Homo sapiens: one gene and its partners. The protein of the gene in region 1 interacts with the protein of each later gene in a pairwise test. Each region holds a gene or a part of one and is shown in the gene's direction. Other genes may lie near its edges. The genes, in order: SFMBT1, ACP1, ATOSB and PSMA1.

Region 1 (7,775 bases):
CAGCCGTGTCCTTCGGGAGCTCCAGCTGGACAAAGACTCTGTGTGGCACGGATGTGGGGAAGTCCTAAAAGCCAAGTGAGTGGACTACTTGTTTTTACTCTTTACTTTTACTTGTCTTTAAAAAGTCACAGAATCGGCGTGGCACAGTGGCTCACACCTGTAATCCCAGCACTTTGGGAGGCCGAGGCGGGCGGATCACAAGGTCAGGAGTTCAAGACCAGCCTGGTCAACATGATGAAACCCTGTCTCTACTAAAAATACAAAAATTAGCCAGACACGGTGCACACGCCTGTAATCCCAGCTACTTGGGAGGCTGAGGCAGGAGGATTGCTTGAACCCAGGAGGTGGAGGTTGCAGTGAGCTGAGATCGTGCCACTACATTGTAGCCTGGGTGACAGAGGGAGATTCTGTCTCAAACAAAAAACAACAAAAAAAATTCACAGAATCAGTTCTGTGGATAATATCAGAAGCCTTATGTTTCCTTAGGCAGGGCTTTTTCAGCTATTTGTGGTGAAGGCCCAGGCTTGTTTTTCTTTTTTAGATTTCCATTCTTTCATGGATCAATACATTTATAAAATATGATAGAATGAATTATAAGAAATACGAAATTTAAGACCGGGCACCGTGGCTCACGCCCCTAATCCTAGCACTCTGGGAGGCTGAGGTGGGCGGATCACCTGAGGTCAGGAGTTCAAGACCAGCCTGGCCAACATAGTGAAACCCTGTCTCTACTCAAAATACAAAAATTAGCCAGGTGTCGTGGTGTGTGCCTGTAATCCCAGCTACTTGGGAGGCTGAGGCAGGAGAATCTCTTGACCTGGGAGGCGGAGGTTGCAGTGAGCTGAGATCATGCCACTGCACTTCATCCAGCCTGGGTGACAGAGCGAGACTCTATCTCAAAAACAAAAAGGAAATAAGAAATTTAAGACATAAAAATGCAAGAACAATTTTTGTTATTAGATGTAAGAGACATAAAATTACTTTTTCAAATTACTGTGAAAGGTTATAAACAGGTACTCTTGCTTTCTGATCTTGTCATGGATGGATGGCAGGCAATTGGCAGGTCATACTGGTCCTTGGATAACAGTCTGAGGATCACTGCCAAGGGTAAAGAAAGACTTAGTGAAAAGTCACTTTTCTTTTTAGAGCAGTTAGTGAAATTACTATTTGAAAACCTTAACTTAGGAACAGAAAGCAGGAGCTTAATTTTGCTAATTTAAATAACTCAGCTTTTAGTTGTCATAGCTTACCAGATTTAATTTGATTTAAGTTCAATATGCAGAACTTCCTTGTTGTTTTCAGGGCCCTTGAACTATAAAGGACATAGAATATTCCAAGAAGCAAAAATATTTTTTAGGTGTATTAATATGTTTGATTTTTCTCTGGGTAATCATTAGCCCAATATATTTGGCATCTGATGTCTTCCAATGGCAGATATAAAGGAAAGAGTTATCGGGCTACTGTTGAGATAGTGAAAACAGCAGATCGGGTGACTGAATTCTGCCGGCAAACCTGTATCAAACTGGAATGCTGTCCTAACCTCTTCGGTCCACGGATGGTTCTGGATAAGTGTTCTGAGAACTGTTCTGTACTTACAAAGACCAAATACAGTGAGTCATGTTTTTCCAATGTGTTAACCATAGCAGCTGACCATACCTTACATCTTGGAAAGTTTTTTACTTTACAGACATTCATATATAGCAGAGGCACACGAACTTCTTCTGTAAAGGGCCAGATGATAAATATTTCATGTTGTGGGTCATATGCTTTCTGTCACATATTCTTTTTCTATGTGTTGTGTTTTCATTTTTTAAGAACCCTTTTGGCCGGGTGTGGTGGCTCATGCCTGTAATCCCAGCACTTTGGGAGGCCGAGGCAGGCGGATCACTTGAGGTCAGGAGTTCGAGACCAGTCTGGCCAACATGGTGAAACCCCGTCTCTACTAAAAATAGAAAAACTAGCTGGGTGTGGTGGCACCTGCCCGTAATCCCAGCTGCTTGGGAGGCTGAGGCAGGAGAATCACTTGAAAGCGGGAGATGAAGGTTGCAGTGAGCTGAGATTGCGCCACTGCACTCCAGCCTGGGTGACAAAACGAGACTCTGTGTCTCCAAAAAAAAAGAACCCTTTAAAAAATGTAAGGGTAATTTTTGGCTTGGGGGCTATACCAAAACAGGTCATGGGCCAGACTTGACTCATGGGCTTTAGTGTGCCAACTTTTATATATAGCATGTATATAAATTAGTTATTGTATCTAATAGGATATGTAATTCATTCATACAATCTGCAAGTATATATTTTGTGCTCATTGTGTGCTTATGCTGCTCTAGCACTGGGATACAACAATAAAGAAAACAAATTCCTATCCTCAGTGAGTTTACCTTTAATGTGGGAGACAGATAACAAACAAGGGAAGAAATTTAGAGAGGGGTCAGTATTTAGAGAAATACTGTGGGGAACAGTGAAGCAAGGTGGGCAAGCAAAATAGGACAGTGAGGAAGGCTGGGAGGTGGGGTGCTGTTTATGCAAGGGGTCAGGGAAGTCTTTCTGACAGGTAACACCTTGAAGGAAACAGGAGCCAGCTGTGCAGAGAGCTGGGTGGGAGTGTTCTGGGGAGGGGGCATCAAGGGCACAGGCTTGAGGCAGAAGCTTGCTTAGTGTCTCTGAAGAGCAGCAATGAAGCCACACTAGTTGGGGAGGTGGAAATAGGAGAGGAGGTAGTTGCAACCTCACCTTGAACTGTCATAGCACCTATTCGCTGTCCTTGCTTATCTTCTTTGAGAAACTGGGGCAGGGGTCACATAGGATGAAATTTACAATTTGGAGCCTTGTCAAGGCATTGCCACCCAAAGACAAAATTCTGATCCTACCTTTCCTTAAATCCTACAAGCCCTATGTCACTTGGGAGAATCACTACAGAGGAGGATTTTTACCTTGTTAAAATGGAAAGATTTCTTTTAGGGATCTGTGCCTCTTAAACTATAGTGCATGCAGATCACTGAAGGATCTTGTTAAAATGGAGCTTCTGATGTATCAGGTCTGTGGGTATCTGGGTCCTGAGTATCTATCTGCATTTCCAACAAGTTCCCAGATGCCACTGATGCTATTGATCCAAGGTCCATACTTAGTATGACGAGCTTTCTAATCAGTATTTAAATTACAAAATCTTATAAGTCTAACCTTCTAGTTTCTATTTATATTTATTGGATTGTAAACTCCTTAAGAGTAGGAATTATCTTAGCTTCTTGTATCAGACTCAGCACTTAGTTTAGGAAACTGCAATTATTAGGAGCTGAGTGAAAAATACTATTCATGTAAATGCATATATAAGCACACTACTCTGAAGGAAGATATGTGAGGGGAAGATATGTGGATTTTATTGTGCCTTTTGTCTGAATTTATCTTTCACAATAATATAGTTGAAATTAGCCTAGAATTTAGAAGGACAGTTATAATTTTTCCCAGTTAGTAATTTGAATGATGTCAAATGGATTCGTATCCTTTAGAAAATTTCCATTTTTTTCACAAAATTGTATTATATTTTGATATTACTTTAATACATAACTCAGCTAGAATATGTATGTTTCATTTCTGGAATGTATATTCTAAAATTTATATGAAAATGCAGAGGATCTAGAATAGCTGAAACAATTTGGAAAAAAGAATAAAGTTGGAAGACTTAGTCTCTCTCTTTTTTTAACCATAAAGTTATAATAATCAAGAGTGTGGCATTAAAGAATAGTCAAGCCGGGTGCGGTGGCTCACACCTGTAGTCCCAGCACTTTGGGAGGCCGAGGCAGGCAGATCACCTGAGGTCAGGAGTTCAAGACCAGCCTGACCAACATGGTGAAACCCCGTCTCTAGTGAAAATACACAAATTAGCTGGGCGTGTGGTGGCAGACGCCTGTAGTCCCAGCTACTCAGGAGGCTGAGGCAGGAGAATCACATGAACCCAGGCGGTGGAGGTTGCAGTGAGCCAAGATCACGCCACTGCACTCCAGCCTGGGTGACAGACTCTGTCTCAAAAAAATAGAACAATGGGACAGACCACAGGGTCCAGAAATAGAGCCAAACTTAACATGGTTAAATGATTTTCAACAAGAGAGATGAAGAAATTTAAGGGAGAAAGGAAATTCTTTTTAACAAATAGCACTGGTACAACCAGATATCCAAATAGAAAAGAAACATATAATAAAACACACGACTCAAAAACATTATGCCTAGTAGAAGAAGTCACACATGGCTGCTGGACGTGGTGGCTCATGCCTGTAATCCCAGCACTTTGGGAGGCCAAGGCGGGCAGATCATGAGGTCAAGAGATTGAAACCATCCTGGCCAACATGGTGAAACCCCGTCTCTACTAAAAGTATAAAAATTAGCCGGGCATGGTGGTGTGTGCCTGTAATCCCAGCTACTCAGGAGGCTGAGGCAGATGAATTGCTTGAACCTGGGAGGCAGAGGTTGCAGTGAGCCGAGATCGTGCCACTCCACTCCAGCCTGGCGACAGAGCAAGACTCCATCTCAAAAAAAAAAAAAAAAAAAAGTCACACACAAAAAAGTGCTTACTGTGTGGTTCCATAGAGGCAAAGCTAATCTATAGTGATAGTGTTTAGAATAGTGGCTGCTTCTAGTAAGGGGTACTGACTGGGAAGGGACCATGGGAGCTTTCTGGGTTGAAGATGTTCTATATACTTTGATATGGAGGGATCATTCAGTACTAGTCAAACCGTGCACTTCAGATCTGTTTATTCCACTCTATGGAATTTAAACCCCAATCAAATACAATGTACCTGTTTTTTGCTATGCTAATAAAATCTCTTGTGGTTTTGAGGTACACAAAAATAATGAAGCTACTTCATTTTTCTTTGTCATCCACATTTAGCACACTATTACGGAAAGAAGAAAAATAAAAGAATTGGGAGGCCACCTGGTGGGCATAGTAACTTAGCTTGTGCCCTGAAAAAAGCCAGTAAGAGGAGAAAGAGGCGGAAAAATGTTTTTGTTCATAAGAAGAAACGCTCCTCTGCATCTGTTGATAATACCCCAGCGGGCTCTCCCCAGGTATGAGATCTGTGATGTGCCTGTAATGTCTTGAAGCCAAGTGACCACTGCTTTATAGTATGGACACAGAATACCTGCAGGTCTTTCTAACTCAGATCTCTGGCCAATAGAAGATGGTTTTGTGGCCCAAGAACTGGTTTGTCCTGAATTTCTTTTCTTTCTTTATTATTTTTTTTTAATCATATGAAACCTGGGATTGATGTCCTGAATTTCAATGAGACTTCTCTCCTTTTCCTGCAGGGAAGTGGGGGTGAAGATGAGGATGACCCAGATGAAGGGGATGATGATTCCCTAAGTGAAGGCAGTACATCCGAGCAGCAGGATGAGCTACAGGAAGAATCAGAAATGTCAGAAAAAAAGTCATGCTCCTCTTCTCCCACCCAAAGTGAGATATCCACATCGCTGCCTCCAGATAGACAAAGGAGAAAAAGGGAGCTTCGCACCTTTTCATTTTCTGACGATGAAAATAAACCTCCTTCACCAAAGGTACCATTTAAAAAATAGTTTCTTTTTTCTTTCTTTCTCTCTGGAATTTCCATCTGGAATATGATTATTAGTGATATTGACATTCTACTTCTTTCAATACAGACTTATGTAGAATTTCCAGGGTCTCTTGTAAAGTGACCCCAAATGCAGTGATTTACATGTGTTTCAAGGATTAGTTGAGATCATCTACTTATAGGGGGAAAGTCTCTCTCAGAGTAGCTGCTTGTTTTAACAACAACAACAAAAAAAGCCCCATTGCTAGCTTATTTGTAGCTTGTCATTTATTTTTGGGAAAACTGCCTTTTTAATATGTTTCATAATATATATGGTTTTGTAGAAAAAAGTTATCCTTTTGATTCTGGTTAAGCCATTTGGCTTAATATATTATTTACTATATACATATGAACATTTTATAACATATGTATAACACTAAAGAACAATTTAGTGTTCAAAAACTAGATTGCTTTTTAAGAATATTCCATGAACAGAAGCAGTAAAGATTCCTCCTGGTAGTTTAGTTAAGCCTTCTCTCAATGGAATTATCATCCCCTTCTCTTCAGCACCCTGTTTTTCTTAGTTAAATTGTCTAAATTATCTGTGCTGGAACTTTGAGATAAATTCTTTCCCATTGATACTTCGTATTATAAAAGACAGACATTTCCTGAGTACCTGATGCACGTGGGTCTTTGCCATCTTTGCTGGGAGAAATCATGTCCTAAGACCACTTTAAATCATGTCTTGAAAGATTATGAATTTAGGTAGAGAGACTTTTTTAGAATAAAATAGCCGTAACACCATTTGGTTTGATTGTGTTGTGGGGAATGAAGGAAATAAGGATCGAAGTTGCTGAAAGGCTTCACCTGGACAGTAACCCCTTGAAGTGGAGTGTGGCAGACGTTGTGCGGTTCATCAGATCCACTGACTGTGCTCCATTAGCAAGAATATTCCTAGACCAGGTAATCACAGATACCTATAATTTTTAGTAATGTCTCTTTAGCAATAAATTATGGATGTAATAGTCAACAATTTATTTACAAGTTTTAGGAAAAATGTTTTGATCCAAAAGACAAGAATTGTCTTAATTCCATTTTTAGGAGTCAAAGATGATAAAAAGTTATTTATCAGACTTGCTTCATAGTTGAAGGAGATTATCATTGCATTCCAGTTTTTCCTAAGAATTTGATTCCATCCCTCCAATATCAAGCATACCATGCTTAATTGTCCACATCTTTTCAAAAATAATGATTTGCTTGTTTAAAAAAAAATAGCATCTGTCACATTAGGCTCTAGAGTGGTGATAAGTTTTAAGGCAAGCTTGCTGAAACACAGTCAGTGGCCTTAAACATTGAAATAAGTTTTGTTTAGAAAATTAGGGAGATTCAAGAGCTTATCGGGTTTTTATGAATGTTACAGAGTAGGAAAACATTGAAGTTGATAGTTAATCCTTTGTTTCAGATTTAGAAGGAACCCTCTAAAAAGATGGCACAATTAGTTGCCAGTTACAGGGCTAGTCAGTTTACTAAATTTCTATGGGACAGAGACTCTGGAATGGATTCTTATCCTTGGTAAAACTTTATTGTCCTCAGTAAAACTTTATTAATTCTGAAGCTTCATTAGTGTGGAAGACTATGGAGTCACTTAAAAGGAAGTGTGTGATACCTAAGACGAAAAAGTAAGGAAAGGAAAGCATAGGGATTCCAGTTTTGACAGAGCTAAAGTGAGGAGAGGCTGTCATGATCAAGCTGCCTTTCATGTGCACATCACAGATAATTTGTCTTTTATGCTTTAACAGGAAATTGATGGGCAGGCCCTGTTGCTCCTTACCCTTCCCACTGTTCAAGAATGCATGGACTTAAAATTGGGCCCTGCCATCAAACTTTGCCATCACATAGAGAGGATCAAGTTTGCTTTTTATGAGCAGTTTGCCAACTGAGAAGGACAACCAAAGTGAGCTGGATCTTTGAAGCACAAATGCAGCAAATCCTTCACCCTGCTTTATAAGTGGAGCTGGAATAGTCCTGGGGCTCTGGGGCCTGCAGGTATCAGCTTGCTCTCTTTGCACTTTCGGGGAAGGAGGACTCACAGTGAGGAAGCAAAAACTGTGCACAGAAGTGGATCACCTGCTGGTGGAAATGTGGACATCTCTTGTTCAGCAGATGGCAGTTTTTAAAAAATAAAGGTTGTGAGGAAAAGACTTATATAAGAAGAAAAGCATTTCCAGTGGTGTGGCC
Region 2 (4,568 bases), on another chromosome or scaffold:
ATTTCTTTGCAGTACAATTTTGAGAAATAGGTTAACTCTATTTTAACTTAAAAGTACCCTAAAAATTATTTAATTGTTTATTAGTGAGTAACAGGCTCAAATACAGCAGTTTTTTTTTTCTTTTAGTATTGCTTTGCATCCTCTAGGCTTGAATGGTATAAACACTGTGTTTTGACTTCTTATTCAATTTTAGATTACCAAAGAAGATTTTGCCACATTTGATTATATACTATGTATGGATGAAAGCAATCTGAGGTAATCCTGTTTTTGAAGAATATTTCTGTTCAACTCTCAGTTCAGCAGTGGGCCAAGTAATTTGTTGTCCAGATTTACTTTTTCTATTTTAAAGGTTTTAATAGTCAGTGATGGTCACCATATGTAGAATTATTTTATTTAGAACAGCAAAAAACTTAGTAATCTAGAATTGTCTCTTAGGTATTTACAAGGAAATACACCTTAGAAAAGGGAAAGTCTAGTTGTTAATAGCATGATTTAATTGGAAAACTAGCTTGGCTGTTATAGTTTTGTATCAAGCATATTGTTCTGCATGAGAACGATTTTGATATTTTTGCTGTAATGATTCCTGGGCAGGGCAGTGTTTTATTGATTCTCAGGTCAAAGCTCTGCAACCATAGGTTCCTATTATTATCCCATCTTGTAAAAGAAGGAAGTGAGAAACGGTAATGTTAGGTTATGTCCCCGAGTTCACACAGCTAGCATGTGGTGGATGTCATGGGATTTAAGCCTAGGCTCAGTGAGGAAGGGCCCTGCTGTATGCACCCCTGCCTCAGTCACCACCCTCCTGACCTGCCCCAGTCCCATGTTCAAGGCGTCATCGGGAACGGATCATAATTTAATGTCACTCCAGGATTCTGACTTGCATCACTACTTATTCATAAATATCTCATGTTTTTGATGAAGATAAACTATTTGTGCTTTTAATTACTTTTGTACAAATGAACAGATAGGGATGCACCAGTTTCAATTATTTTTTATTAATTAGGACCTTCATTAAAATGCATGTATTTTTTAATTTTTATTTTTCAGTCCTTATTCTGTTCTCATTGTTTTTGCTGACACCATAGCCCATAGGCATCGTAAAAACACCTTTTTAGGAGACCCCATTTGCTTTGACTGGCACTGAGCACCGTGTTTCTTTGCGTGTGGGGCAAGTGGAGTTCCTGCAGCCTCACATTTGCACGTGCTGTTCCTCTGCCTGGAAGCTCCTCCTTGCTTCTTGGGTCATTCGGCTCCTATTTGCCCCTCGTGGGTCAGCTTAAATTCATTTCTTGATAGAGGTATTCTGCTGCCCTGTCATTAGGCCAGATTGTGCATTAGACTTAGGCCTGCCTGCAGTTCTCATTCCTGCACCTAATCCTGAGCTGTAAAACTTCGTGCATGGGAGCTCTTGGCTGTTCCGTTCCCACATAAAGCACGTACCTGACTCATCAACTCATCTGTCGCAGGTGCTCAGTCGAAATTTGTTAAATAAATGGAGGCGCTTAGTTAAGTTTGCCTTTTTCTTTTGTAGCAATGTGAAAGCTAAGGGTGGAAGTCTAGAGTGAAGCTGAGTTTTCAGCTTGGGCAGAGGCTTAAGGAATAAAAGATGGAAGAGTAATTAAGGAGTGGGTCGTGCTGTGGGAAGTGCTGTGTCAAGACACCTGAGGATGGAATTGGTAGCCCTCTGTTTTGGGACTGGTTCAGATGGTGTTTTGGGTTCCTTTCTATGACCTTTATCTCTGAAACTTGATTGTCTTAAAATGTATTTTGTGGGAGAAAATATAATTATTGTATATTTTGTGTAACAGAATCAGTGAGAATAAGCTGCTGTCGCAAACTGTCTTGCCTAGAGAGAGGGCAGTGGCATACAGCTGCAGAAGGGGCCACACGGGCCTGCTGAGTGTTCCGTTTCATTTCAAATTAGGTCATTCTGTCTTGATTTTGATATGGATGTTTCAGAACACCCTAGCAGATGTCCCTGTTTAACTTGAAACCATAGATCAGAAAACTAAGTTCATATTTCAATTTTACAGAGATTTGAATAGAAAAAGTAATCAAGTTAAAACCTGCAAAGCTAAAATTGAACTACTTGGGAGCTATGATCCACAAAAACAACTTATTATTGAAGATCCCTATTATGTAAGTACAGTTCACGTTTTAGGGCTAATATGAAGACCCAACACATTTGTATCCTGCCATATTAAATAACAGATGAGATTGTGTTAAGGATGTTTTTGTTATGCAGGTTTTGCCATTTTCTTCTTTTTCCTGTCCATTTAGGGGAATGACTCTGACTTTGAGACGGTGTACCAGCAGTGTGTCAGGTGCTGCAGAGCGTTCTTGGAGAAGGCCCACTGAGGCAGGTTCGTGCCCTGCTGCGGCCAGCCTGACTAGACCCCACCCTGAGGTCCTGCATTTCTCAGTCGGTGTGTAATCACGTTCCAGGGCCCAAAGCCCAGCTCTTTGTTCAGTTGACTTACTGTTTCTTACCTTAAAAAGTAATTGTAGATGGAAATCAGTTGTGTTTGGCAGGAGAATCAATAAAAATCTTTGATTCAGACAGCTTATGGGGTATTTTAAGCATTCTTAGACTAGTTGAACATCTCACTTTGCCCCAGTTACAAAAATAGTAGAACAAGCAACATAAAACAATGAAGGAAAACCTCACTTGAAGGCCCAGGTCAACATCTAAGCCTGTTGAGACTTAGATAATCGAGTCTACCTCTTCAGTAGGTTTGTGTGGATGGCCTGGAGGGCAGGTGCCCTCTGCTCCCCAGTGCTACCTCTCTCTTCCCTAGGGCCTTTTGTGGATTGACAGTAGTCCCCTCCGTAGGAGCTCACAGTCTAGATTAGAAGTGTTTTAATTTCTACACACCCATAGTGCACACTTGTATATTGAAAAGATAGGGAAGAGAGAAACATTTATGGAATCAGTCGTTGGCACCTTCAATACTTCATGATTTTTGTCGAGTTTACTTCATGAGGAGGTCAGCCCATTGGCTCCCATCTGAACCACTTTGCCTCTGAAACTTAATTACATCCAGAAAGAAGGACACTTGTATGCTAGTCTATGGTCAGTTGAGGAATATGACTGTTTTTATATGCACATGTAACCCAAATGTCCAATATAAATTGGCTTATTTTTTAAAATAATTTTAAAAGTTGGGAAAAGTGTTATTATTTGGCATGCTTAAATATTGAATAAGTATTCTTCATCAGCATTTAATAAATGTATAGGCAGATGTAAGGTAATTTCTGTGTATTTTGAGATAATGTCAAAATCATGAATATTTCAAAATAAACTGGGGAGTTATAAAAATACAACTAGAGATATAAATCTGGTGTCTGCCTGTTTTTTTATTGACAGGTAAGGAAGCATTTGAAAACATTGTATTGTCCTTTTTACATGATCTGTGATGTTAGGTGTGCATATTTTATCTTCAGGATAAGGAAGTAAAATGATGAAAATAAGCACATTGCTGCCCCATGTCATCATGTCTAGTTTCTGAAGGAAGTTTGAGGTTCTACAGCTGGAACTGTCCTTGCCCAGTACCATCCTCTGGACATGTTGCCTCTACGCTGTGCCCTCCTGTGCAGTGATGCACAGCTGCCTGGCCAGGACATCTGCACTCCTGACCTCAGTATCATGAGGGTCCCAGGCAGTGCCATGGGGAGGAGACACGTTTGATCCTTGACTCCCTAGTATCTGGAGGATAAGCTGTTGCCAGATGAAAGTGAGTAGTTTCCCCACTGTACCATGTGGAAGTGCCAGGCTGTCTTCATAGGAAGAAAGTTTGCAAACCCAGTGAGTCTTGCTCTTGTTGGAATTACTCAGACATACAGAAAACTGAGGGGATTAAATATTAATAGATTGGATATTTGAACATGAAATCCTTAAAACATAAAAAATGGGGAAGGAAAGGTCAAGTAATGAGCTGTAATTAGAAAACAGGATTAAATAAGAGCACTTCAAAAGTTACACCCTGTTCTCTTCATTCAGTAATTGCTTTTAATCTCAAAGTCAAAATTTCTTACTCTTCTATTCCTTTATGTTTGGAAATAAAATCCTATAGTTTTTCTTTAATGTTTATCTCTATAAATACAGATCCTCAAACAAATCCTAGGACTCTTGACTATTCTGTCCTTATGGCTACACCCAGACGATACCATCTGCCGACAAGGGCTCATATGAATGGAGAAACTCATTGCTTTGCCGAATTCAGCTTTTTAAATTGGATCCAATTAGATTTGTTTAAAATACATCTACATCTAAAATTCTGAGACTGCTTAGAAGTCTTAAGGTTTCTCCTAGTTAAGCATTTTCATGATTACAAAATCGCTTGGGAAATAATGGATACAACCTTATTTGGAATATTTCCCAGCAAATCAGGGACTATCTTAGGAAATTATGTCACCAATATATAGTAGCCTTTACTTTAAAAAAAATGCTAATTATCCCTTAGAGAAATTCTTAGGCTTCAAGTTTTCATTTGTTTATGGCTTTCATATTCTATGACCTTTTGCCAGTGTCATGATCTCTCAGTAAATCAGAAGTCACGAATTCCCAA
Region 3 (7,775 bases), on another chromosome or scaffold:
GGGTTAAGGAGAAGGGCGGAGCGACCTTGGGTAAGCCTACCCCCTTATGGACCAATAGGCGTGTGCCTCTTGGAGGGGGCGTGCCTCGCACTTGAGGTCGCGGGGAGGCTGGCTTCCTATGGACCAATGAGCATGGTCGCTTTCCAGGGAGGGCGTAGCCTGAGGGGGGCGTGGCGGCCGTGGCCGCCGCGGCGCGGGTGGTGGGGCACTGGGCGGGGCGGGCGGCCCCATCAGCTGGTAGGAAATGGCCTGTGAGTCAGAGGGGCAGTGGAGTCGGCGGCGCGGAGCCGGGGCGGCCCCGGGGAGGGACCGTCGCAGGGAGGGGCGCGGCAGCGGCTGGGGGGCTGCGGGCGCCAGGGCCCGCTAGTGTTGCACACGAAGCTGAACAGCGAAGAGCCTAGCAGAGCAGGGCTCAGCCTGAGCCACCCTTTGTCTGGGTTGGGGGCCCGTGGCAGGGAGGACCGGGGAACCAAGGGGAGGGACCGGGACGGGACGGGACGGAAGGGCCCGGAGCAGCGGCCACCTCCGCGGAGCCAATTTGGGAGCGGGGTGAGTGTGCTAGAGGGAAAGAGCAAATCTCCGAAGCTCCAGTATAGTATGGGGCCTGTCCCAGGCTGTGGGGAGGAGAGGAGTGAGAAGGGACCTGGGAGGCTGGGCAGGGGGTAAGGGATCGTCCAGAAGAAGGAGTCCAGGAGTCAGGTGAGTCTGCCTGGCTTAGTTTAGAGAGTCTGCTAAGGTCTGCTCTCTCCCCTCTGAAGATAGAGGGCTCTAGGCTGGGGGCCGAGGGGTTGGTAAGAGAGAAGAAGTCGACCTTCCTACCCACAGTGGTGGTCCGTGGGAACAGCCCCCCTAGCTTGTGTGGATGTATGTAGGGACAAAATAGAGAGCAGCTGGCAGCAGTTCTCTTTGCATAGGATGAGGGTGGAAAGCACATGGATAGGAATTCATCCTGTCACTCTCCTTGATCATGGTAGAAATGGAAATCTTTAATACTGAAGGGAAGGGGAGAATGAGCCTTGAAGCTGATACCTATACCAATACCCACCTCACCCACCTCCCAGGCCTCAAAAGTGTCTAAAGGTACAGACGTATTCTGGGACTTGTTGTTTTTGCTGGCCTTGCTCCCTCAGCATGTTGGGAGCTGTAGTCCTTGCCAGCCACAGCCTGGCACAGCTGTTTGATGCCAGCTGCTGCCCACCCCCTGAACGAAGAGTGAGGCTTGGCCTACTCTGCCCTGCCCCCCTCCCCTGCAGTCCTGCCCCATGAGTCAGCTTGAAGCCATGGTCTAGAGCCAGACTGGCTGGGTGGCAGGGGAGTGAATATAGAGCGTCTTGTTGACAGGGTGGGAACTGAGAGGGCTCTGGGGTTAATAAGCAGATGCCAGGTATGCTGGGGTCAAGTAGGGCATCATGTCATCCCCTGGCTTCCCCAGGGCAAGGGGTCAAGAGGGCAACTGGGATGACCTGGAAGTGGTGGTGCTAGGGAAAAGGCCCCTCCTGAATCTGTATGGCTTGGGTGGAGGAAAGAAGGGTAGAAATTAGTGCAGGTTGTACCTTCTGACAAGGTTGGTTGCAGGTAGGATAGTGCAGGTTGCGATTGGTGTTCTGCCCTTTCCAGCCATCCCGCCCACCACAGGGAACCAGGATTTTCTTAGGGATCCCAATTCTTAGGAGAATTTGGTGAAATGGGATAGTGGGGTACAATGATGGGAACTTGGTGTAGGAGAGCTTTTCAGTCCCTGGGTACAAATCTCTCCTTTCTGCCTGCTCCCCACCCCCACCTCTGTTCCTGATTTTCCCTTGTACAATTAATCTCTCTGCTTCTCTCATCTGGGAAATTTTTCTCTCCACTCTCAGGACTGCTGCTCAGATGTCTGGGACTTGCATTCTACTTTTTTTGAGCCCTGCTGTGTGCTTACCCCTGTACTTGGGGTTGGATGGAGGGGTGGGACACAGATCTGTCCTCAGGAACTCTATGGTCGGTCTAGAAGATGCCTTACCCACAGGAGTGAGCAGAACTGTTAGTGAGCTTACAGGAAGTAGTAACACTGCCATAGGTGAGGTCTCAGAGAAGGGAGAGATGCTTATGGTCTGGGGTGGACAGAGCAGACTTTCTGGAGGAGATGGCATTTGACCTATCCAAGGAGGAAAAGTCTTGGGTAGGCATTCAAAGGGCACTTCTTGAAGGGGAAAGAGCACCGTGAATGTCAGACAGCAAAAGAGAAGGCTGACCCTGGGGGCAGCTGGCTTTCAACTTGACATTCCCCTCACCCTAGTATGGGCTGGAATAGTTAGTGAAGACCATCTTATGCACCCGTGGTTTGGGGTTTTGGTGTTGGGTGTGTGAGCACTGGGGGAGGGGCGTGGAGAGGTACTCCCTAGTTGCTTCCAGCTGACTGACTGCTGCGGCCTTATCTCTAGTTTGCAGGGCCTTGCGGGAGGGCCCTGGAAAGTGCCTTCTGGCAGTGACCCCTTCCCCTTCCCCTTCTTGTTTTTGGTCGGATTTGTTGCCTCTTGTTAAAGAGACAGGCTGCTGGAGGCAATTTGGAGTTCAGGGCTGAAAGGCCAGCTCTGAGCTGACTTGAAATTTGTACCTCTGAGGACCGCTGATGGGGTATAACTGTGTGGGAGACCTCTGCCCTTAGTGCCCTAGGATGGCACTTGTCCCTTTGGAGATAGACATATAAGAAGGAGTTGTGCAATTTGGTGGCTTTGAGTAAGAAAGCTGAATTCTTCCCCTGGCCGCCTCTCAGCTGACACGGTCTCTTGGATCTTGGGGGTCTCTCATCCCTTCCTCCATGTAGGGCAGGAGTCCTCAAATGGTGGCCCTGACAAGTAGTTATTCTACCTCAACTCACTTGTCACATCCTTATTATACTGAGCCAAGACCTGCCTCTTTGACTCCTTAGGTAGCCCAACTCTGCCATCTGTGCCCTGGACCCCAAGCCTACCCTTTCTGTTCCTGAAGAGCCTCTCACATGGGAGAAGGATGTCCTGGAGTGTACTATTAGCCTATAATTGGTGACAGGCCTTACCGCTGGCTCCAGTGATCCTGGCTTACGTCTGTTCTTCTCTCCTCAGGGTCCTGCTGAGCTCAGGAGCTGCACGGAATGGTGGCAGTCACCTTGCCAGTGCAGCAGGCATGGATCAGACTGCAAGCTAGGGGCACGAGGCATCAGTTGGGAAGAGGGGACGCACAGCTAGGCTTGAGGCCTCTTCATCGGGGTAAGTACCAGGGAGAAGAGGGGGAAGTGTGTCCAGTAAGAAGCCTGAGCTAAACCTGTCACCCTCTCAGGAGTTCTGAGAGTGGTCTCTATATTCCATTAGTCCATCCAGGGATTTGTACACATTCATCCTTGGGAACCCATCAAAGTCACCCCTTTAGGCAAGGAGAGGGTCTGAAACTCAGCTGGAAGGAAGAAGACTCATTGATTCCCCTGACCACCTTTTCTTCTCTTCTCTTACACAGATGTCCCCAGGCCCCCCAGCCCAGGCCCAGCATAAAGGCCGTGTTGGGGGGCCCCCCTGACCCAAGGGGGGCTTCATGCGCCACGTGCAGGCGGAGCCGTCTCCATCCTCAGAGCCGGAGGCTGGCCCTTCACAGCCTCCAGTCAGGCAGGGGGCCCTCCAGGGTGGCCTGCTCATGGGCTACAGCCCAGCAGGGGGGGCGACATCCCCCGGGGTCTACCAGGTATCCATCTTTTCCCCTCCGGCTGGTACCTCTGAGCCTCATAGGGCCCTGAAACGACAAGCCCCATCCACTGAGGGTCCCCGGGAGCTGAAGAGAGGCCCTGGGCTGGGGGCCAGAGAGGGACTACCCCCTGAAGAACCATCTACTGTGGGGCTCTTAGGCCCAGAGGGACCGGGGCTGGGACTAGGTGTGGCCAGCCAGCATTTCTCCCACCGTGGCCTCTGTGTTGTGGAACAGAGAAGTAGTGTCACCTCATCTTGGACTTCGGGGGCCTGGAGTCCCCCCTGCCCCCCATCAAATGCTTCCTGCAATACTTTGCACACCAGAGACTGGGCCTCCCCAGATCCAGGGGGACAGGGGTCCCTGGGGGAGTCCCCAGGGCCAGCCCCTCCAGGCCAGCTGCACACACTTGACACTGATTTGCACAGTCTTGCACAAATAGGGGGTAAGAGCCCAGTGGCTGGGGTGGGCAATGGGGGTAGCCTCTGGCCTAGGGAGTCCCCTGGCACTGCCAATGGGCACAGTCCCGAGCACACACCCCCTGGCCCTGGACCCCCAGGCCCCTGCCCCACCAAGCGAAGGCTGCTTCCTGCTGGAGAAGCCCCAGATGTCAGCTCTGAGGAAGAGGGGCCAGCCCCTCGGAGGCGCCGGGGATCCCTGGGCCACCCTACTGCTGCCAACAGTTCTGATGCCAAAGCCACACCCTTCTGGAGCCACCTGCTGCCTGGGCCCAAAGAGCCTGTTTTGGTAAGCCAATAAAGGACCTCATTTACTCTTTTTTTACTTTTTTTTTTTTTTTTTTTTTTTTGAGATGGGATCTCACTCCATCACTGCTGGAGTGCAGTGGCACAATCTCAGCTGACTGCAACCTCCTCCTCCCAGGCTCAAGGGATCCTCCAACCTCAGCCTCCCAAGTATCTGGGACCACAGGCACATGACATTGCACCCAGCTAATTTTTGGTATTTTTGGTAGAAATGGGGTTTCGCCATGTTGCCCAAGCTGGTCTCGAACTCCTGAGCTCAAATCATCGACCCACCTTGGCCTTCTAAAGTGTTGTGATTACAGGCGCTCAAGCCACTGCGCCTGTCCTTCATGTACTCTTAAGTGGATATTTGTGTGGGTAAAGGTGGAGGCCTGGGGGGCAGGGTGTTCCTTTGAGAGTTTGTGATGAGCTTCTGCCCCAAAACATACATGGCCTTCACCCTGTGTCTTTTCCCAATCATTTCTCTCCGTAGGACCCAACAGACTGCGGTCCCATGGGGCGGAGGCTGAAAGGAGCCCGTCGCCTGAAGCTGTAAGTGACCAGCTTTTTCCTCTACCCTGTCCCTGAGAATGGGGGCAGAAGTCTGTACTCTTTCCAGCATCCGAGTAGGGGACCCCAGGGCAGAAGCCCTACATAGTGGCAGAGGGTGGAGTCCAAGGGCATAAGCAGGAATCCCAGAATACCTCAAGCCAACCCCCTGTGTTTCCCTTCCTCTACCAGGAGCCCCCTTCGAAGCCTCCGGAAGGGGCCAGGCCTGCTGAGCCCCCCCAGTGCCTCCCCTGTTCCTACCCCTGCTGTCAGCCGTACCCTGCTGGGCAACTTTGAGGTAGCTCCCGTTGGGGTTTGTGATTGCCGGGGTCCTGGGAGAGGTGGGATGGTGGAATGTGGCTTGGATGGATAAGGAAAAGAATTGGCATCTCTCTCTTCATGTGTTTTCCCTACCCTAATCCCAGGAATCATTGCTGCGAGGACGTTTTGCACCATCTGGCCACATTGAGGGCTTCACAGCAGAAATTGGAGCTAGTGGGTCATACTGCCCCCAGCACGTCACGCTGCCTGTCACTGTCACATTCTTTGATGTTTCTGAGCAAAATGCCCCGGCTCCCTTCCTGGTATGCCTTGACTCCAACCCCAAAGTCAGCTCATCAAGAGGATGAGGATTTGGGGGCGGGGCCAGGGGGCAAGAGGTATTTCTTACTTATTCCTCACCTAGAAGTGAGTCAGGGCCAGGTGAGGAGAACTCTACTGTAGGGCAGGGGCAGGTTCAGGGTGAGAGCTTGTGGAGAGGGACATGTGTTTAGGGCCCAGGGTTTTCCTAGTCCCCACCTTGACTGATGGCTCCCTGGCCTTCCAGGGCATCGTGGATCTGAACCCCTTGGGGAGGAAGGGTTACAGCGTGCCCAAGGTGGGCACCGTCCAAGTGGTGAGTTTGCCCTGAGGGAGTGGGAGTGGGGAGAGAGGAAAGCAGCCCTCAGGCCCTACCAACCTTGACTGTCCTGTCCCTAGACCTTATTTAACCCCAACCAGACTGTGGTAAAGATGTTCCTTGTGACCTTTGACTTCTCGGACATGCCTGCTGCCCACATGACCTTCCTGCGCCATCGCCTCTTTTTGGTGCCTGTGGGTGAGGAGGGAAATGCTAACCCCACCCACCGCCTCCTCTGCTACTTGCTGCACCTCAGGTGAGGAGAGGGCCCAGGGATGGCTGGGGAGGCCCAGGTATCCCCTCCCTGAAGAGGATCTCTCCTTGCTTCGATACTGTCCGGATTCTTGCTTAGTTTATTTTTAAATTTTTATGTATGTATGTACATATATATGTATGTATTCATTTATTTTTAGAGATGGGGTCTCGCTATGTTGCTTAGGCTGGTCTCCAACTCCTGGGCTCAAGCAGTCCTCCCACCTGGGTCTCCCAAAGCACTGGAATTACAGGCATGAGCCACTGAACCCAGCCTGGATTCTTACGTTGATCACATTGTCCTCCTCCAGGTTCCGGAGCTCCCGCTCAGGCCGCTTAAGCCTGCATGGAGATATCCGCCTGCTTTTTTCCCGCCGGAGCCTGGAGCTGGACACAGGGCTCCCCTACGAACTGCAGGCTGTGACCGAGGCCCCTCATAATCCACGTTATTCACCTTTGCCCTGATTGCCAGCACTCTGAACCCATGCGGGCTAATGACCTGCCCATCCTGCTCCATCTTAGAGAACATATATGGAGAGACAGCAAGAGACCCTTCAGGCTTGAATTAAAGCCCTCACCATGCTCACGCCCAAATGGATTATTTGGGTGTTTAAAGCTTCTGATTCTTACTACACCCTGCCCTACTTCGGGTACTCCATGTGCCTGTCCCCTCCCTTGGGTTTCCCAGGCCAGCTTAGGTAGTAGGGAGGAACTGGAGCTACCCTGAGATTTTCTCAAGTTCCCAGGCAAGTTATGCCAGCGTTGCCTCCCTGTCCTGGGCAGGGGCCACTTGTTATTTTATTTATTTTTAATTTATAATTTATTCAAATTGGATTGCCTTGGTAACCTCCCACACCTGATAATTGGCATCACTCCTCCCCGCTTCCCACTCTCAGATATTGCTCCAACCTCAGGAGTTGAAGAGGCTTATGCGGTGGGGGCAGGAGGAGAACTGCTTTCCCTCAGCTGAGGGAAGAGGGGCTATTCCAGAGGGACTGAGTCAGTAGCCAAAGACTCAGCTTCCCCTGTCCTTCCCCAGTCCCTTCACTTCCCCTACCCTCTGACCTATCTCTGAAAGCCAAGTTATGCGTATGTGTGTGTGCACAAGCTTGTCTTTGTGTGGTATGTGTGTGTGAGTGTGCATGTATGCACACACACAGGGGTTAACCACCCCTCACCTAGGGCTCCAGACTCCAGTTGTCCCTCTCCTCCTACCTGTGTCTCCTTGTTTTGGGGTCCTGACTGAAGAAGGTGTCCAGGGGGCAGAGTCAGGGCCAAGCACTGGGGTGCCTCCTCTCACCTGGCCAGACTCTGACCCACCTACCTCAGCTGGGGTGAGGGGCACCCCTCAAACTCAGTCATGTGGTTCCAAACTACCCCATTCCCCACTCCAGACTCTGACCCAGCCTCAGTCCTAACTCCTGGGGCTGGGCTGAGGGGAACAAGCATTTGCTGAAACTTGAAAAAACAAAGCAAATCAAAAACAGGAAAAAATTGTACCTGGTACTTTTTTTTAGAAAAAAAGATTAAAAAAGAAAGAATAAATTCTTGTTTGGAAACTTGAACTAAGCTCTACTTTTGTTGTTGTTGTTGTTGTTGGGGAGAGGGTGTGAAGGGGGATGGAGGGCCTTCCTGGAGCTGGG
Region 4 (7,775 bases), on another chromosome or scaffold:
GACCCAGATACCAACACAACGATATGGCCGGAGACCATATGGTGTTGGTCTCCTTATTGCTGGTTATGATGTAAGTTCATTGAATATTGTTATATGTTAATGATTTTTTTTAATTAACTAGAAATTTTTATAATTTTTAGTTCAACCAAAGTAAATAATTATGTGGTGTATTTATTTCTATTTGTAGGATATGGGCCCTCACATTTTCCAAACCTGTCCATCTGCTAACTATTTTGACTGCAGAGCCATGTCCATTGGAGCCCGTTCCCAATCAGCTCGTACTTACTTGGAGAGACATATGTCTGAATTTATGGAGTGTAAGTGACAGCCTTGCTTTTTTTTTTTTTTTTTTTTGCCTTTTCCAGTCTATATAGTAAATAAACATAGTATCCTAAATGCATAAAACTGTAAGTCTTATAGAAAGAATTTTTTTAAAAAAAATTATGCCCATGAAGAGTTTATTGTTTCTGTCACATATACTAATCTTAACTTCTGGTTACCACAGTAGTTTCAAGCACGAGTAGAACTTTTTCAAAATATAAATGTGTTCCCAACCTTGAAAATTCTTGATTCATTTGGTCAGAAGTGTGCCCTGTGGAGTGGAGAGTGGAGAACCACTGTACTACCTGCCAGTTGTAAGCTCTGTTCACTTTTAGTTTTCTGTGAGTCTTTTGTTATTTTAAGCCACACAGACATTTCTGCATTAGTAGTCCATAAACAAGAAATAAAAAGGCAGTGTAGTTGAGGGAGAAGAAGGTAAAAGAGGTAAGATGTTATGACAGGACAGGTTTTCAAGTGCTTTGCTTTGCATTGGAAGGAGGGTATCGGGTTTTACATTTCTCTTTGTCATCTTATCTGTTTTCTGGTGACAAAGCATTCTTTGGAGGAAATATTTGGGGTTTAGTGAATGCAGAGAAAAATAGTTTAATTGACATTACTCAAAGCAAACTTGTGGGATGACAATAGGTTTAACTTTGGGAAAAGAGGATTCCTTGGACAAATAAGCTTGGTAAATGCTGGCTTAAAGTTTAACATTGTAAATTATGGTAAATGGTTTGGGGTCCCCAAGGTTACCCCTAAATTTGGAGATATGCTAGGACTTAAAGCGCACAGCATATAGTTGTACTCCCAGGTAAGACTTTTAACAATAAAATAACAGTACATAGGTGGATCATTAAGGAAAAATACAGTCCAGAGGAATCTATGTGCAGGCTTCCTTATGCTCTTTCCTTCCCATAAGGAGTCACAGAGTACACTTGCAGCAATATGTATGTGATGTTTCTGCCCAGAGAAGCTCATTAGAAACTCAGTGTCCAAAGTTTGGTTCAGAACTGCTCATATCAGCACCCTCTGCCTAGCACATTTCAACCTGGATAGGAAATTCCTAAAGATTGCAATAAATCTATAGATAATTTTGGGGAGTACTGCTACTTTGATGATACAAAGCATCTGATCCATGAACATGGAATATCTTCATTTATTTAGGTATTTAATTCTTTTTTTTTTTTTCCTGAGACGGGGTTTCACTGTTTTTGCCCAGGCTGGAGTGCAATGGCGCGATCTCGGCTTATTGCAACCTCTGCCTCCCAGGTTCAAGCAATTCTCCTGCCTCAGCCTCCTGAGTAGCTGGGATTGCAGGCATGCGCCACCACGCCTGGCTAATTTTGTATTTTTAGTAGAGACGGGGTTTCTCCATGTTGGTCAGGCTGGTCTCAAACTCCCGACCTCAGGCGATCCGCCCAACTGGGCCTCCCAAAGTGCTGGGATTACAGGCGTGAGCCACCACACCCAACCAGGTATTTAATTCTTTCACTGATGTTTTGTAGTTTTCAGTGTACAAATCATATTTGTCTTAAAGTATTTTATTATTTTTGGTGCTGTTGTGAACAGAATTGTTTTCTTAATTTCATTGCATATTATTCATTGCAACTATATAGAAATACAGTTGATTTTTATATATCAATCTTATATCCTGCAATCTTGCTGAACTTGTTTATTAGTTCTAGTCATTTTTTTATAGATTCCTAAGATCATGTTGTCTGGGAATAGAGATAGTTTTACTTTCTCCTTTCTAACTGCCGTGGCTGGAACCTCTGGTACAATGATGAATATAAGTTGCATGAACAAACCTTCTTTTTTTTGTTCCTAAACTTAAGGGAAAAGGTTTTAGTCATTCACTGCTAAGATTGATGTTACCTGTCAGCTTTTTGTAGATGCCCTCTATCAGACTGAAGAGGTTCCTTTCAATTACTAGTTTGTTTTGTGTTTTTATTATGCAAACATTTTAGGTTTTATCACGTGCTTTTTATGCATCTCTTGGGGTGGTTATGCAGGTTTTCTCCCTTCCTTCAGTGTAACTGAAAATTACACTGACTTTCAGTTGTTAAACTAACTTATTCTTGGGATAAATCTCACTTGTATATGGTATATAATTTTTTTAATGTGTTGCCAGGTTCCGTTTGTAGTTTTTGTTGAGGGTTTTGTTTTGTTTTGTTTTGTTTTTGCATCTATATTGGGTCTGTAGTTTTATTTTCTTGTGATGTTTTTATTCTTGTTATCGGTAATACTGGCCACATAGAATAAGTTGGAGATTCCTTTTTACAATGAGCAAATATAAGGACTAGGATTCTACAGAACACATTCTACAAAACTTGGAGTTGTATAATTTATAGTCGGGATTTTGATTTGACCTAGCAAAAGAGAAGATCAAAATCGTAACAAAAATCATGAGTCCTCTCATTAAATAAAATAAGAATCAGCAATGTCATAGAATGCTATTAAAAGATTATATGACTAGCATTAAACTTGGCTGTTTTTACTGTGATAAATTTAGTGTGTAACTAAAAACCACAATTTGAGACTGTAGATTTGATAAATAACAGAAGCCTAGCATAACAATGAAATTAAGAAATAATTGTTAATTTATTACATATAGGTAATTTAAATGAACTAGTTAAACATGGTCTGCGTGCCTTAAGAGAGACGCTTCCTGCAGAACAGGACCTGACTACAAAGGTAAGTATTGTCTTTTCCAATTGTAGATATTAACGTTACAGTTTAAACCTTTATTGCATAAATGTAATGGAGTATATATGCAACATTCTGTAATTTGGGATATGATTGTCTTGGCAGATTCTTTTCCTTTAAGCTATTTGCTAAGTAATCCAATTTTATTTTTTAAACATTTCTTTTTGGTACAAAGCAGTAAAACCAGTAAATTTCATGCAAAATGTCCTTCATTATTTTCAGCAGATTGGCATATCTTGGTATTATTTAGTTAACAAAAATATATATATATTGAGCACCTACCATGTGCAGGCACTTTCTAAGCATTGAAAATACAGTAAACACAACAAATAACTTTTTCTTCATGGAACGTACATCCTAGTAGGGAAAGATAGACAGTATATACATAAGTACATTATATAGTATATTAGAAGAAGATAAATGCTATGTAAAAAATAAAAAAGCGTTAAAAGGAGAAAGAATGACCAATTGGATGTAGGTAGGTGTAATTTAAAATAGGTGGTTGAGGATATTCTCACCAAGAAAATGAAATTTGAGGAAAAGATATAAAGGAGGTAAGTGAGTATGAGCTATGCAGATCTAGAGCAAAATTATTCTAGGAAATACAAATGCAAAGGCCCTAGTATTTAAGGCAAGGAGGCCAGTAGTGTTGAGGTCAATCATCGAGAGGAAGAGGAAAAGGGAAGAAATCAGAGAGGTAATGGAGGTCCCATAAGCCATTGTGGTTACTCTGCATTTTACTCTGGGTGGGCTGTTAAGAGTTTGAGCAGAGGAATACCATGATTTGGTTTAGGTTTTAAAACAGTCACTCTGTTTGGCATTTTAACGACAGATTGAGGCTGGGCGCGGTGGCTCACGCCTGTAATCCCAGCACTTTGGGAGACCAAGGCAGGTGGATCACGAGGTCAGGAGATCAAGACTATCCTGGCTAACACGGTGAAACCCCATCTCTACTAAAAATACAAAAAATTAGCCGGGCTTGGTGGCAGGCGCCTGTAGTCCCAGCTACTCGGGAGGCTGAGGCAGGAGAATGGCGTGAACCTGGGAGGTGGAGCTTGCAGTGAGCTGAGATTGCGCCACTGCACTCCAGCCTGTCCAGCCTGGGCGACAGAGCGAGACTCCGTCTCAAAAAAAAAAAAAAAAAAACAACCGGTTTGTGGGCCAGCCGCAGTGGCTCACGCCTGTAATCCCAACACTTTGGGAGGCTGAGGTGAGTGGATCACTTGAGATCAGGAGTTCGAGACCAGCCTGGCCAACACGATGAAACCCTGTCTCTATTAAAAATACAAAAATCAGCCGGGCGTGGCGGTGCATGCACTCCAGCCTGGGTGACAAAGCAAAACTCCATCTCAAAAAAAAAAAAAACAGATTGTAGGGGTAGATAGATAGTGGGGCTATGGGTAGAAATAGTTTTAAGGCTATTCAGGTAATTATGTGAGAGATGATAGTGATTGCAGCAGAGTGACAGAGTTAAAGATGAAGAGTAGTGGTTCAATTTTGGATATCTTTTGAAATTACAGCCAAAAAAGTTTGCTAATAGATTTGTTATAGGGTGTGAGGGGGGAATGTCTCCAAGGTTTTGGGCCTAATTAATTGGAATGAAAGATTTATGATTTACTGAGGTGAAGAAGATAGTGGGAGGAACAGGTTTTAGAGTAGGCGTTGGGGAGGAAGGTCAGGCAGTCAGTTGCGGACATGTAAAATTTGAAATGCCTTTTTGTCTAATTGACGGTACAGAGTAAGCAGTTATAAGCAACACGTGGAGTTCCATGGAGAGTGGTCCAACCTACATTTCAAATTTTTGAAGTCTTTATATAGAAATGGCATTTAGAGTCTGGACTGGAAGAGATTCCTAAAGGAATTGAATAGTTAGACAAGCATTGTGAGGACTGGACCAAGAACACTAACCTTTAGCAACTGGGAGATGAGTTAGGTGTTGGCAAAAAAGACTGAGAGAGGTGGTCAAAGAAGTAGGAGGAAAACTTGGAAAATGAGGCATCTTTGGAGGCAAACGAATAAACTTTCAAGGAGGAGGGGCAATGAAGTTGTCACTGAGGACCTGACAAAACAGGCTTAATGGAATAATAAGGCAAAAACCTGATAGTGGAATCAGGAGAGAATGGGAGACGAGGAATTGCAGATAGCTTTTTGGAGGATATTTCTGTTGACGGTCACTCTGTCACTCTGCTCCAATCGCTATCATCTCTCACATGAATTACCTGAATAGCCTTAAAACTATTTCTACCCATAGCCCCACTATCTATTTACCCCTACAATCTGGGTTTTTTTTTTTTTTTTGAGATGGAGTGGTGACTGGAAGAGGAGAGAAATAAATTGTTTTGTTTTTTAAGATGGAAGAAATTACATCACATTTGCTGCATGATTGTGAGAGTAATCCAAGTAAATTTAGGGAAGCATTTATGAGGAAAAATAATGAGAAAATTGTTAGAACAATGTCCTTTAATAGTACATAGGTGGAAGGGTTGGCCTTAGGAAGTTTTAATGGGAAAGGAGAGAATCTAGGGACATAGGTACAGGAAAGAGTGGATACAGTGGGAACTTGTGAAAGTTCTCTTCTAATTGCTTCTGTTTTCGCAGTAATATAGGAACAAGGTTTTCAGCTTCAAAGAGCTTGGAGAATGTTAGAAGTGTCTAAAAGAAGGGGAGCATGAATGATGTAGAAATGGGTATAGTGGGATCCAGGAACCACTAAGGCCTACTTGAAGTTAATGATCATTAATAAAGTGAGATTAGTCAGTTTTATAAAGCCATTTTGTTATGGTGATTGGATAATTATTGTTTAATATCAATGTGAAGACTTTATAGCCTGCATTATCTTTTTAAAAAAATGTTTCTAGATAACATAGATCTTTGGAGTTACTCATGATAATCAAAAGTTAGTATTAATATTAAATCTGCAAATGACAAGGGTCCACTAGTTTCCTTCTTTTTTCTCCTACACATAAGTGGTTTTTAAGGTTTTATTCAAATGCTATATAAATTCTTATTCTGCTTTTTTCACCCAATATTTTATCGTATGTATTTTTTCATCCAAATTCTCTTATTTTACTTTTACCATATTTTACCCTTCAGAATGTTTCCATTGGAATTGTTGGTAAAGACTTGGAGTTTACAATCTATGATGATGATGATGTGTCTCCATTCCTGGAAGGTCTTGAAGAAAGACCACAGAGAAAGGCACAGGTATATAATCATAACACAAGAGGCTTTAGTTCTATTGTAAGCTGCTGTTCTTACCACAACTGTGTCTGTAAATTTTCCATTTTGTCTTAAATATTGAAATGGGCCCATAATTCAAATGGCAACAGGAAAATTAAGAACTGAGTAAAGTTAAATATTGAAAGGGCAGTGATCTCCATAAACACAAAAAGGGGGCCGGGTGCGGTGGCTCATGCCTGTAATCCCAGCACTTTGGGAGGCCGAGGCGGGTGAATCACGAGGTCAACAGATGGAGACCATCCTGGCCAACATGGTGAAACCCCGTCTCTACTAAAAATACAAAAATTAGCTGGGCGTCATGGCATGCACCTGTAGTCCCAGCTACTCAGGAGGTGAGGCAGGAGAATCGCTTGAACCCGGGAGGCGGAGGTTGCAGTGAGCTGAGATCCTACCACTGCCCTCCAGCCTGGGCGACAGAGAGAGACTCTGTCTCAAAAAAAAAAAACAAACACAAAAAGGGAGAAGTGTTGATTATTTGGTTATCTATTGCTAGGTAATAAGCTACCCCAAAACTTAGGGGCTAGAACAACAAACACTACTTCTCACAATTTTGCGGCTGACTGGGGCTCACCTACATGGTTCTTTGCTGGTCTCACCTGGGATCTCTCAAACATTGCAGTCATTTGTGGGGTGCAACTGGAACACCCAAGATAACTTCAGTCACATGTCTTCTTTACTCACACCTTTTAGGTGTCTTAGAGGAGCATCTAGAAGGCAGAGACCTCTGCTAGGATGACTGAGCCTCTGTCCACGTAGTTTCAGGGCCGCTTCTTCAGCAGGGTCTCTCTAGCATATTGGCAACTCAGGGCTTGCAAAAGTCAGAAGTGAAAGCCGCCAGGCATTCTTAAGGCTGAGATGCAGGACTGGCACAACATCACTTGTACACATTCTGTTGGTTAAAGTGAGTCACTGGCCTGGCCCAGATTCTGTTTGAGCAGAGACTGGGAGAAATGCTCATTGGGGGCCAGCTTTGGACACTAAGATGGCTCTTCATAAAGAGAAAAGCATCAAGAAGTGAATCTCAGGTGAAATATGGGTCTTTTTGCTAGATGTTTAGAATATACATTTGCTATTTATAGATGCTTATTTGATAGCAGTGTAATTGAAAGTAAAAAAGAATCTAGTATGGAAATTTCTACAGCATGAGTTTTTTTAACTTGGAAAGGATATTGTTGGTACTATTTGGGGGATCAAGATTTGCAATATTTAAACTGTTTTTGGTAAAAACTAGCACTGTTGGGAAGAATGCTGTGGAATACCACAAACTAGTTTGGCAAAGGGGAAAAGAATGTCTAAAAAGTGCTGATTGTATTTTAAACATAGTAGTGATAATACAAGGAAAGCTTTTATTCCTGAGCAATGCAAAGTACGATAAAATGGTGGAATTGTTCAATGATATTTAGGTTTTCAGAAATGTGAAATTATATATACAGTTATCCTCGAACAGTGTGGGGTTTAGTGGTGCCAAACCCCAGCATGGTTGAAAATCCACATATAACTTTTGACTC

The links.
Region 2: the proteins of SFMBT1 (region 1) and ACP1 interact in a two-hybrid assay, tested with the Homo sapiens proteins (one large-scale study listed by BioGRID and IntAct).
Region 3: the proteins of SFMBT1 (region 1) and ATOSB interact in binary tests that used the Homo sapiens proteins (3 or more experiments, as listed by UniProt).
Region 4: the proteins of SFMBT1 (region 1) and PSMA1 interact in a two-hybrid assay, tested with the Homo sapiens proteins (one large-scale study listed by BioGRID and IntAct).

What each region holds. Positions count from the first base shown.
Region 1 is NC_000003.12:52,904,838-52,912,612, reverse strand, and holds part of SFMBT1 (scm-like with four MBT domains protein 1), read left to right. Parts: coding exon 1-75; intron 76-1,434; coding exon 1,435-1,610; intron 1,611-4,879; coding exon 4,880-5,058; intron 5,059-5,298; coding exon 5,299-5,544; intron 5,545-6,371; coding exon 6,372-6,500; intron 6,501-7,336; coding exon 7,337-7,477; 3' UTR 7,478-7,775. UniProt on the Homo sapiens protein: Histone-binding protein, which is part of various corepressor complexes. Mediates the recruitment of corepressor complexes to target genes, followed by chromatin compaction and repression of transcription.
Region 2 is NC_000002.12:274,947-279,514, forward strand, and holds the end of ACP1 (low molecular weight phosphotyrosine protein phosphatase), read left to right. Parts: intron 1-193; coding exon 194-255; intron 256-2,033; coding exon 2,034-2,139; intron 2,140-2,280; coding exon 2,281-2,358; 3' UTR 2,359-3,337; downstream 3,338-4,568. UniProt on the Homo sapiens protein: Acts on tyrosine phosphorylated proteins, low-MW aryl phosphates and natural and synthetic acyl phosphates with differences in substrate specificity between isoform 1 and isoform 2.
Region 3 is NC_000009.12:35,104,043-35,111,817, reverse strand, and holds the end of ATOSB (atos homolog protein B), read left to right. Parts: intron 1-161; exon of another isoform or gene 162-251; intron 252-365; exon of another isoform or gene 366-549; intron 550-602; exon of another isoform or gene 603-2,158; intron 2,159-2,187; exon of another isoform or gene 2,188-2,613; intron 2,614-3,080; 5' UTR 3,081-3,224; intron 3,225-3,468; 5' UTR 3,469-3,543; coding exon 3,544-4,437; intron 4,438-4,926; coding exon 4,927-4,985; intron 4,986-5,174; coding exon 5,175-5,280; intron 5,281-5,407; coding exon 5,408-5,566; intron 5,567-5,808; coding exon 5,809-5,877; intron 5,878-5,960; coding exon 5,961-6,136; intron 6,137-6,443; coding exon 6,444-6,597; 3' UTR 6,598-7,701; downstream 7,702-7,775. UniProt on the Homo sapiens protein: Transcription regulator that may syncronize transcriptional and translational programs.
Region 4 is NC_000011.10:14,506,112-14,513,886, reverse strand, and holds part of PSMA1 (proteasome subunit alpha type-1), read left to right. Parts: coding exon 1-70; intron 71-187; coding exon 188-317; intron 318-2,935; coding exon 2,936-3,015; intron 3,016-6,120; coding exon 6,121-6,231; intron 6,232-7,775. UniProt on the Homo sapiens protein: Component of the 20S core proteasome complex involved in the proteolytic degradation of most intracellular proteins. This complex plays numerous essential roles within the cell by associating with different regulatory particles.